Homo sapiens: one gene and its partners. The protein of the gene in region 3 purifies or fractionates together with the protein of the main gene of each other region. This does not show direct contact. Each region holds a gene or a part of one and is shown on either strand. Other genes may lie near its edges. The genes, in order: CARS1, PRMT3 and GFPT1.

Evidence for each region.
Region 1: the proteins of GFPT1 (region 3) and CARS1 fractionate together in Homo sapiens (co-fractionation; one large-scale study listed by BioGRID). This does not show direct contact.
Region 2: the proteins of GFPT1 (region 3) and PRMT3 fractionate together in Homo sapiens (co-fractionation; one large-scale study listed by BioGRID). This does not show direct contact.

What each region holds. Positions count from the first base shown.
Region 1 is NC_000011.10:3,026,320-3,029,973, forward strand, and holds part of CARS1 (cysteine--tRNA ligase, cytoplasmic), read right to left. Parts: exon of another isoform or gene 3,125-3,654; coding exon 2,984-3,124; intron 2,766-2,983; coding exon 2,677-2,765; intron 479-2,676; coding exon 357-478; intron 1-356. UniProt on the Homo sapiens protein: Catalyzes the ATP-dependent ligation of cysteine to tRNA(Cys).
Region 2 is NC_000011.10:20,492,158-20,495,811, reverse strand, and holds part of PRMT3 (protein arginine N-methyltransferase 3), read right to left. Parts: intron 1,894-3,654; coding exon 1,843-1,893; intron 1,646-1,842; coding exon 1,558-1,645; intron 1-1,557. UniProt on the Homo sapiens protein: Protein-arginine N-methyltransferase that catalyzes both the monomethylation and asymmetric dimethylation of the guanidino nitrogens of arginine residues in target proteins, and therefore falls into the group of type I methyltransferases.
Region 3 is NC_000002.12:69,321,196-69,324,849, reverse strand, and holds part of GFPT1 (glutamine--fructose-6-phosphate aminotransferase [isomerizing] 1), read left to right. Parts: 3' UTR 1-3,654.

The DNA of each region.
Region 1 (3,654 bases), on a different chromosome or scaffold from region 3:
ATTTCAACATAGCCAGAAGATCTGGAACATTCCCAATGCAAAGAAAAGGTAAACGTCTAAGGTGACGAGCATCCTAACTACCCCGATCATCACACACGGTGTGCATGTATTAAGACATCACATGTTCCCCATAAATTGCATAATTATTATATATCCATTAAAAAAACACATGTCATGGTCTTAGAGCTGCACAATGTTGAGTGCAGAAAACTCCTAAAATTCCTTCAGGTGAAAAAGCACTGTTCCCAAGAGTCTGAGGGGTGGGCTCAGCGCAGCCCCCGTGGCCTGCAAAGTCAACACAACCCAGGCTGGGCCAGGAGGGAGAGCCCACATGCTCTCAGGCATGCCCTCCTCACCTTCCCCTTCTTGAAGGGCTTTCTGATCTCCAACGGCCTCAGGCACCAGCTTCCCATAGGAGTGCTTCTCGCTAGAAGCAAACTTCGCTGTATCAAAGTAGACAGACCCATTGGAGACATAGCTGGAAAACAGAAAAGGAATTGGGTGGGTGCATCTAACAGACCCGAAAGTGTGTCAGCAGGATGACAGTAACAAAATAAAGCAGGGCTATAAAAGTGCGAAATCTGTGGCCTATCTACTCTCTGTGGTGGCCACTGAAAACCGTATCAGCTGTTTGGACTGAGTGGGACACCAGGGCCCATCCCGCTGCGGAGGCAGCCTGCCTGCCCTGGGCAGCTCGTCCCTCTGCCTGGCGTCCTGTGACCCATGCAGCTCCCACCCTGCCTTGCTCAGGGCTGCTGCCGTCCTCATTCTTGTGTGGCCTCACCTTTCCCTGAATGTCCACACTCTACCCATTAGCTTAGCTGAGGCTCTTGGCCTCCAAGAAGCACTCTAGATTACTCCAGTCTGGAATGACCTGTCCTCTCTGAGCTTCGGCTTGCCCATGCCTCTCGGCTTGGCACAGGCTCTTATGCTGCCCCACAGTAGTTTGTGTGAAGTGGGGAGAGAAGCAGCGCTACTGCTTAAGAGTCTGCCCCGTTCCTGGCACTGTCACAACCTCTTGTTTCTCTTTCATCCAGCCTGTGTGGTTCCTGTGGGAGGGAAGCAATCTGAGGCTGGACACAGTGGGTCTCTGGGAGCAGGCGCACGGTACAGTGCTGAGCACTACTGTGGGCGGCAAGCCACCCAGGTGCCGAGGCAAGAGACCGAGGGCACGAGCTGTTCCAGTATAATAAAATATAAAATAAGAATAGTTATACCAGATATAGATCTTAGATATGATTATATATGAATATCATTAATCATTAGTTTGTAGCAATTACTCTTTATTCCAATATTATAATAATCCTCGCTCTATAATCATAATCTAGGAAAAACCAGGCCATACAGAGATAGCAGCTGAGGGGACATAGTGAGGAGTGACCAGAAGACAAGAGTGTGAACCTCCTGTTATGCCCGGACACGGCCACCAGAAGGGTTCCTTGGTCTAGTGGTAACGCCAGCGTCTGGGAGGATGCCCGTTGCCAAGCGGACTGTGGTCTAGCGGTAGCGTAAGTGTCAAGGAAAAACACCCGCTACTTAGCAGACCGGGAAAGGGAGTCTCCCTTGCCCCGCGGGAGTCTGGAGAAGACTCTGCTCCTCCACCTCTTGTGGAGGGCCTGACATGAGTCAGGCTCGCCCGCAGTTATCCGGAGGCCTAACCGTCTCCCTGTGATGCTGTGCTTCAGCGGTCACGCTCCTAGTCCTCCTTCATGTTCCATCCTGTACACCTGGCTCTACCTTCTAGATAGCAGTAGCAAATTAGTGAAAGTACTAAAAGTCTCTGATATGCAGAAATAATGGCGTAAGCTGCCTCTCTCTGTCTCCTCTCTCTCTCTGCCTTGGCTGCCAGGCAGGGAAGGGCCCCCTGTCCAGTGGACACGTGACCCACGTGGCCTTACCTATCATTGAAGATGGCTCACTCTCCTTAACCTACCCCTTTGTCTTGTATCCAATAAATATCAGTGCAGCCTGGCATTCGGGGCCACTACCGGTCTCCGCGTCTTGGTGGTAGTGGTCCCCCGGGCCCAGCTGTCTTCTCTTTTATCTCTTTGTCTTGTGTCTTTATTTCTACAATCTCTCATCTCCACACATGGGGAGAAAAACCCACCGACCCTGTGGGGCTGGTCCCTACACACTACAGACAGATAACCGGGTTCCTGTCTGCATTTCCATTTGTTGGCCATTTCTGAAAATGCTTACTTTGGAGATTGAGACAATACGGGCCAGGGAAGTGTATGATGGATTTGCCAACAAAAAGTCACTAAAATCATAGCCAAGCGATAGATGCTGATGAAATGCATCCTCCTTCGGGATATGACACCAGGACTAGCACTCTCAAAATGTCTACGCAATGGCACTGATGTCTGTGAAGGCCCAGCAGTATTCGCACTCACCATTATGCAGCTCTGGGGCCCCATGACTGATGGTCTTGGCTGCCGAGCTTCCCAGCAGATTCTGGGTTAGGTTCTCACCATGGCCCCCAGGACAGTGCAGACCCATGCTCCTCAGCCCCTGGGTGGGCCCAGAGTTGTAGGAGGAAGTCTGCTGGGACTTCTAGCTACGCAGCCCCAGAACACCTGCTCCTCTGCTTCCCAAACTCAGGCTCAGAGCTGGGGAGCTCCTCCCTGTGCGATGTTCTGCAGCCCTTCCCTCCCTAGGGAAGGCCCTTGTGCTTACCCGTAACCGTTGTCCACAATCTTCTGGACAAAGTTCACAATTTCTGGCACATACTCACTAACCCGGGTTAAGACATCTGGAGGGAGAACCTGTGCAAGACATGAGAATGTCCTGGGATTTTCCCTTCTGAAAACCACGCGCTCCATAAAAACGTTCCCAATTCATAAAACGAAAAGCCCATTATGCCCCTCAACTCAAGTTCAATGTTGACTTGGCCGCTTAATTGAGCTGGCCTTGCCAAAACAGGAATTTAGAAATCAGGGCCCTTAGCGCAAGAGAGCCAGCACAAGACAATCGTGACACTTACATTCAGAGCTTCCATGTCTCTGTGGAAGTCCCCCTCCCAGAACTTGGGCAGCTTGGAGAAGATGGAATTGTCAGTGACATCACAGCCAAGTGTAGAATCCAGCCAGTCAGAGAGCAAATCCTTGGCTTCTTCCAGCAACACCTGAAGAGAAAGAAACAAAAATCCAGCAGCGGGCCACACACTTCACATGAGAACATCTCGTGCAGCTGGTGTGAGCCCATCAGTGCCCTGAATTCAAAGGTGCTGACCTTGACCTGTGAAGAGCCACCGTCTCCTAGGGAGACTGTGATGCTTACACAACTGGCTCGGCAGGGACAAATACAAGACTCTACAAATGGGCAGGTCTCACATGAACTCAGAGGAGCAAAGCCAAGGGGACTGTGGGTGCAGAGGCAAAAAGAGGTGGGAGGGCCGAGGTGGGCCTGGTGAGCATGTGCAGCCTACCTGGGCCGTGCAGGGCAGGGTTATGGGCAGAGGCTGGGCAGGAGCACACAGTGTGTCACCTACAGCACAACCCCTTGGTGCATTCAGGAAAAGATTCATGACGGACACAGCCAGAGGTTAGGAGAGATAGGCAGGGCACTGGTCCCAGAGGTCTCAAAAGCCCCATCTCCCTGACGCCATTGACTGAAGATGCCATCCCCACTTGACACACCATGGAATGGGAGTAA
Region 2 (3,654 bases), on a different chromosome or scaffold from region 3:
ACATTCAGCTTTTGTACTCTCAGGAGGTTTTCAGAGAAGGTGGTACAAGAAGACTTATATGTAGTAAGCAGTTTAAATTTTTAAATTCCATAATCAAATTCTAACTTTTAGAGTGAAATATATAGGTATGTCAGAACTATAGGTGCTAATGTAAGTGAACAATCAATGAGTTTTTAAAATAAAAAATAGAATCTGATTAGCCCTTGAATACTGCATAAGATTTGGATAGGCAGGGAAGAGACAGTGGAGAGAATGCTAAGACAAATATATTTTGAATGCAATAACTTTTTCTCTTTTTTTGAGACATGGTCTTGCTGTGTCACCCAGGCTGGAGTGCAGTGGTATCATCATAGCTCCCTGCAGACTCAAGCAAGCCTCCTGCCTCAGCCTCCAAGCAGCTAAGACTACAGGCTTTTGTCACTATGCCCAGATAATTTTTATTGTTTTGTAGAGATAGGGTCTTGCTATGTTGCTTGGGCTGGTTTAAACTGGCCTCGGCTGGGTGCGGTGGCTCATGTCTGTAATCCCAGCACTTTGGAAGGCCGAGATGGGCAGATCGTCTGAGGTCAGGAGTTTGAGACCAGCCTAGCCAACGTGGTGAAACCCCATCTCTACTAAAAATACAAAAATTAGCTGGGCGTGGTGGTGCCAGCTACTTGGGAGACTGAGGCAGGAGAATTGCTTGAACCCAGGAGGTGGAGGTTGCAGTGAGCTGAGATGGTGCCACTGCACTCCAGTCTGGGCAACAAGAGTGGAACTCCGTCTCAAAAAAGAAAAAACAAAACCCAAAACTGGCCTCAAGTTATCCTCCTGCCTCAGCCTCCCAAAGTGGCTTATTACAGGCATAAGCCACTGTGCCTGGCCTACAATAACTACTGAATGAAATTGTCTTTAACTTTTATTTTATTGGTAATATTTCTCTTCAGTCACTTGGAGAAAGAAAATATTTTTAGTTATATTTGTAACTTATTAAATACTAATTATTGCCGAAAGTTTTCTGAATTATTTTGTGATACTTTAAGAGCCAGGTAGTCTTATTTATTTTAGTTGGCAGAAATTAGACTTAAAAATTTTTCTTAAATTATGTCTTTAATTAAATGATATGCCATCTAAAATTTATGTAGATGGTAAGCTCTAAGAATATCTTTTCTTAACATCTGTTATATTGCTTCAAATATATTGTGCAGGCCAGGCGCAGTGGCTCACACCTGCAATCCCAGCACTTTGGGGGGGCCGAGGCAGGTGGATCACTTGAGGTCAGGAGTTGGGGACCAACATGGTGAAACCCCATCTCTACTAAAAATACAAACATTAGCTGGGTGTGGTGGTGTGTGCCTGTAATCCCAAGTACTTGGGAGGCTGAGGCAGGAGAACTGCTTGAACCCAGGGGATGGAGGTTGCAGTGAGCCGAGATCACTGTTCTCCAGCCTGGGTGAGACAGCGAGACTCCGTCTCAAAAAACAAATATAGTGTGCACATAAAAAGTGGCTGTAAAATGAATGAATATCATTTACTTCAGAATGAATAAGATACTTCCCCCCTACTATTCTTTCTCACCTGCTTTAACTGAAAATGGTTTTTCCAGTAGAAATACTGTTTGTTTCCAGTGTGTTTTGGTGCTCTGAGGGCCCGTAGAGAACACGACCTGAATTGGTAAAGTTCAAAGGTATTTGATGAAGTACAAGATTTTTAATATCATGGTACATTAATCTACGACATCAAACACAAGCCCCAATTGCTTACAGCAGCAAAATGCTTATGATTAAACACCTTGGGGCACAAAATAAAATATAATGTACTTCTGTAATAATTAATTCTTATGAGATAATTCATGATACTTACCCTGTTGTGGCAATTCTTCTCAAAATATATATCAAAGTAGCCAGCAATTGCCTGTTTTTTAAAAAAAGAAATATAAATGCTTACTAAATGAATTACATAATATAATAACTCATTACTGTCTCTTAAGACATGGCAAATGATAAACCATTTCAGAGACTAAATACCTCTTAAACTCAATATTTTTCCTGGAAAAGATGTTGTAAGTAAAAACGAAGTAATGTAATTTGGCTTTTCCTCACAGAAACAACATAATAAAGGTAATAAGGCTAATCAAATAATTAGTACATTTTATTAGAGAAATAATCATGCTAGACCACTGAAAGGTGAACACACATGGAGAGAGAGACTCAGCTGGCCCCTCACTGATCCTCACTCGCCAACTGAGATGTCCACCCACGCATTAGGCTATCTTGACTTCTCCAGCTGTAGTCAAGTGTTCAGACAACTGCAGCGGCATGAAAGATGCCAGGAAGGACCAGCAAGTGCACTACTCAGTTAAGTCCAGTCAGGATTGCAGAATCGGAAACAAACAGATAAAAATGGTTTGGGCTTCAAGCCAGAGTTCTGAGATGGGCTATTACATAGCAATAAATAATTAAAACATCCTATTTATACAAAGCCAGTTCATTTAATTTCTTCTAGTCCAGTATATCTGTTTTTAAGTACTATGAATATTTTTGTGATGAAATAAAGATTTTTAAAATGTTACTTATTTTTTTTTTCCTGAAAAAATGAACAGTAGTACTCAAATCTTATGTTTAAGCAAGTACTCAAAGGAGAAACTCCAAAGTGAGCTCTAAGGGTTATTGTGATAGTACAAAAAGATTTTTTTTTTTTTGACATGGAGTCTTGCTCTGTTGCCCAGAGGGATCTCAGCTCATTGCAACCTCCGCCTCCTGGGTTCAAGCGATTCTCCTGCCTCAGCCTCCTGAGTAGATGGGACCACAGGCGTGCGCCACCACACCTGGCTTTTATATTTTTAGTAGAGACGGGGTTTCACCGTGTTGGTCAGGCAAGGCTGAGTAGATGGGACTACAGGCGTGCGCCACCACACCCGGCTAATTTTTATATTTTTAGTAGAGATGGGGTTTCACCATGTTGGTCAGGCTGGTCTCGAACTCCTGACCTTGCGACTCACCCACTTCGGCTTCCCAAAGTGCTAGGATTAGAGGTGTGAGCCACTGCACCCAGCCTACAAAAGATCTCTTAAAGAAATTAACATACTCAGATAAATACATAATTTTGAGTTTTTTGGTTAAATTTAAATACCATTCCATTTTCTTTCACTATTGGAACTAGCTGGACTTAATCACTTTTTAAAGCTGGCATTACATTAAGCTTAGAAAGTGTAAAAAACAGGACACTGATTTTTTGAAAAATCATGGTAAAGCTAATTTGTGTACTCTGCTACTTTTGTTAAAAATGTGACATTTTATTGATCTGGTAGGGTTAATATGGATTAGGTCCAAACCAAACTCAATATTTAACCCTGAGGTTCACTGCAATTTAGATACCAAGAGAGAATCAAAATACTAGTAATAATTCTGCCAAATAGAATTATAAAACAATGTAGTACTCAGCCACAGATTATCATAAAAACCACGTGGTTAATTAGAATATTTCTAAATATAACTTTATCAGTTGATTTCCAGATACTTATGATACCCCTTCACAGACCAATTCAACTGTTTTCTTATTTATTCCTGTATGCCTGTCTTGTTCACCACTATACTCTCAGTGCCCAGAGCAGTAACCTGGCCCATAGGATACAATACAATACAATATTTGATGAGCAAATGTGTTTATTATACA
Region 3 (3,654 bases):
GTAATAATTTCTTAATGGAGCTTTTCTGGCCAGATCTTCAGGGCTATAGGAGAGTGTGTTTGTTTTTGGTGAAGTCCTTCTTTTTCAAAGGTTTTTACTTTTAAATTGTGAAGATAAGCTATTTAGCACAATTATTTAAGTAAGCTGTTTTTTCCTTTCTTTTCTTTCTTTTCTTGTTTTAACTTCTGGGTGAGGTTAAGATTTTCTAATAGTTATTGTTGTTGCCAGAGAAGCATAGAATTCTGCTTGTGTCTTAGGGTTAGAGAAAGATTTGTTATATTTTGAGGTAATTTGGAAGGACTTTCATACATGGTGACTAGAAACCTGATCTTTTTAAGAATAAAATAGGGTCACTATTTACATTATATATAATATATGGCTATTATAGCTATATTAATCTACTTTAATTGTTTCTAAGATTATTTTGTGTAAGTCAGCTAGCGTGTGTATAGTGTCATTTCTTATGTTTTGTATATTAACGTTTTACAAACACAATTTGTGTGGGTTTGTAGCATTTCTTATAGTTTAAAGTATGATTCAGCATTCTAAGTTAAAACTAATATGTGAAGTCAGTCATTAGTCTGCATAATCTCTGTCTCCCTCTGTGTGTGTCTTTCTATAAAGCACATGTGTACACACACACACACAAATATACTGAAAGCTAGGGTAAGTTCTAAACTGAATATCAAAAACCAAAATCAAGAACAAAGAAGTGATATTTTCCAAACAAACATGGATTCTCTGCCGGGTGCAGTGGCTCAGCCTGTAATACCAGCCTCCACTTTGGGAGTCTGAGGTGGGAGTATTGCTTGAGCTCAAGAGTTGGAGAACAGCCTGGGCAACATGGTGAGACCTGGTCTTTACAAAAATTTTTTTGGCCGGACGCAGTGGCTCACACCTGTAATCCCAGCACTTTGGGAGGCCGAGGCAGGTTGATCATGAGGTCAAGAGATCGAGACCATCCTGGCCAACATGGTGAAACCCCGTCTTTACTAAAAATACAAAAATTAGCTGGGAGTGGTGGCGTGCGCCTGTAGTCCCAACTACTTGGGAGGCTGAGGCAGGAGAATCGCTTGAACCCAGGAGGCGGAGGTTGCAGTGAGGCGAGATCACGCCACTACACTCCAGCCTGGCGACAGAGCAAGACTCTCTCAAAAAAAAAAAAAAAAAATTTTTTTTTTAAATGGGCTGGGCATGGTGGCTTGTGCCTGTAGTCTCAGCAACTTGGGAGGCTTAAGTAGTAGGATCGCTTGAGCCTGGGAGGTTGAGGCTGCAGTGAGCTGTGATTGTGCCACTGTGCTTCAGCTTGAGTGACAGAGTGAGACCCTCCTGACTCAAAACAAAAAACATGGTTTCTCCTCTCTCTCCTGTCTTCTTACTCTCTATCCCATTTGATGTAGTGATTTTTAAATGCTTTTGTAAGTTAATTCTTAACACAAAAGAGACATTGTAATGAGGCACACCACTAAAGTGAGCATGCCCAATTAAAACCAGTGTAATATAGGATAAGAAAATCTGATTTTTCAAAAAAGATACTCTACATAAAGAATCCTTCATATAAAAAGTTCTTTCTTGTAGTACATTTAAAGTTTTAATTCACTCATGTATAACTGAGAGTTCCTTTGAGCCCTTTTTAGGCAGGGAGGCATGTCTGTCATCTAGCGTGTGGCCCAGTAAGTGATTATTACATTGGAATCAGTTTTTCAGTCTTTTAAAATAAATTCTGTGCCATAAGAATAAAAGATAAAGAGAAAAATTAATGTTAACTATTTTTAGCTTATTATAACTATGTCAACAAGTGTTTATTAATACCTATTATGGGAAAGTCACTGTGGTTGGCATTGAAAATTACATCATCTTTAAAGCAGTATTTGTCCCCAGATGGACTCATCACTAGCAAAGACTAGGTTCATTGGAAGGCATAGGGTGAGAGAATGGGAAGATGAAGTGGAGGCGGGTTGTTAAAGTGCTGTCAGTGAGTGATTTTGTCTACTTGAATAATGGTCCATGTTTGGGGGCATATTGTGTTTCATAAGAAGTGAAAGGTATTTGCAAAGTAAGCTACAAATGACCCATAAATCTGTTAACAACAGTCCTTAATATGCAAAGATGAAAAACAAGCATTACTGCTACCCAAAGGGAACTGGTGCTTGGTGATGTGCAGATGGGGCTGTTGGTTAAGAGAGCTATTACAGGTTTTCTCTCTTAGGTTTCATAGGAGGTAGTTACTGAGATGAGATTGTTTTATCTTTTTGAATACAGATCTCTTGTCTTGAGTTAGTTCTGAGGATGGGAGTAATAAAGGAGTTTTTTGTTTTTTTGTTTGTTTGTTTGTTTTGGCTCCTTAGTAATACTCCTCTGACATTTATTTCTATTATTCTTCAAAGAAAGGAAACCAACTGAAATGTTTGCTTTAACAAACATTTTAATAAGTTCTCTGGGTTTTTTTTTCCCCTTTTAAAAAAATTAGCATATACCATAGCAATAAAAGAACTAATGTTAACTATTGTATGCTACAACTTAAGTGATTTTTCTAAAGAAGCACAATGTCATTGAAAGTATTATTGAAAAGGATCATAGTCACATTGAATTTGTGAAGGCCAAAGAAATTGAAGGGAGTGATATTTTCATTTTATGATATTCACATATTTAGTAAATTTTGTGTACAAGAATACCAGGCAGAGTGTTTTACCCATGGAAACAGGTTTCAGATTACTTTATTTTTACTGTTAGAGTCTCAAGTTTAGAAATGCTAACACTTAAATCAGTTTTTTTCTCACTATACTTGAAGATTGTTAATATTTTGATATCTTCCTAGCTTGATGAATTTAAACATATCTTCAGATCTGTGACAGTGACAGCCAATAGGACTGATAATATTAGCTTCAAACCAATAATATCCAGGGTTAAAATAAAAATCATAGTGAAAGTACGATTGTAAAATTATGCTATATTAACTTTTAAGTCTGTAATAACTTGACATCAAAATGTTATGTAATTACCATAAATAATGGCTAGCGAGAACATCTTTGGAAATTCTCAAATTACCTTTCTTACTACACTGTTTGCAGAATGAATGTAGAAATGATCCTGTTAGCTTTCTGAATGTTCTGTGGTTGAATGTGTTTTTGCTTAAATAAAGCTTTTGGTATTTGTTTAAATTACACTTCTTGAGAAGTGGAAATTTTAGGATCATCTTTGCTTTGTTTCAGTTTTGTGATTTTTGAAATGAATGTTTAGTTTACTGAGCCAGTTGGTCATTTCTTCCTCATGTCGTTAAGTCCAGTGAGTAAGCCTGAACTGTGAATAAATTACCAAAAACTTGCTTAGAATTTCATTTTGAAGCAATTTGCTAATATTTGAAGTGTATACACATTTGTAGTTATGTTAGAAATTGTATTGTACTAAGAATGTAATCAATGTCTACTTTAGTTGTAAACATTTCTGATGTCAAAACTTTATTCATTACTGTTGATTTTAAGAATAAGAAATCACTGCCTAAATATTACCAAAAGCCACTGTCTCTACCCGAACTTCCCAGTTTGGGAAAGAATCGTTAGATAAAACAAAGGCTCTGCCCTTTCTGATACCAAACTCCACAGATACTTTCTCACATCTTTTAAAACATTTTGCAATAACATATTGTTTATAGGA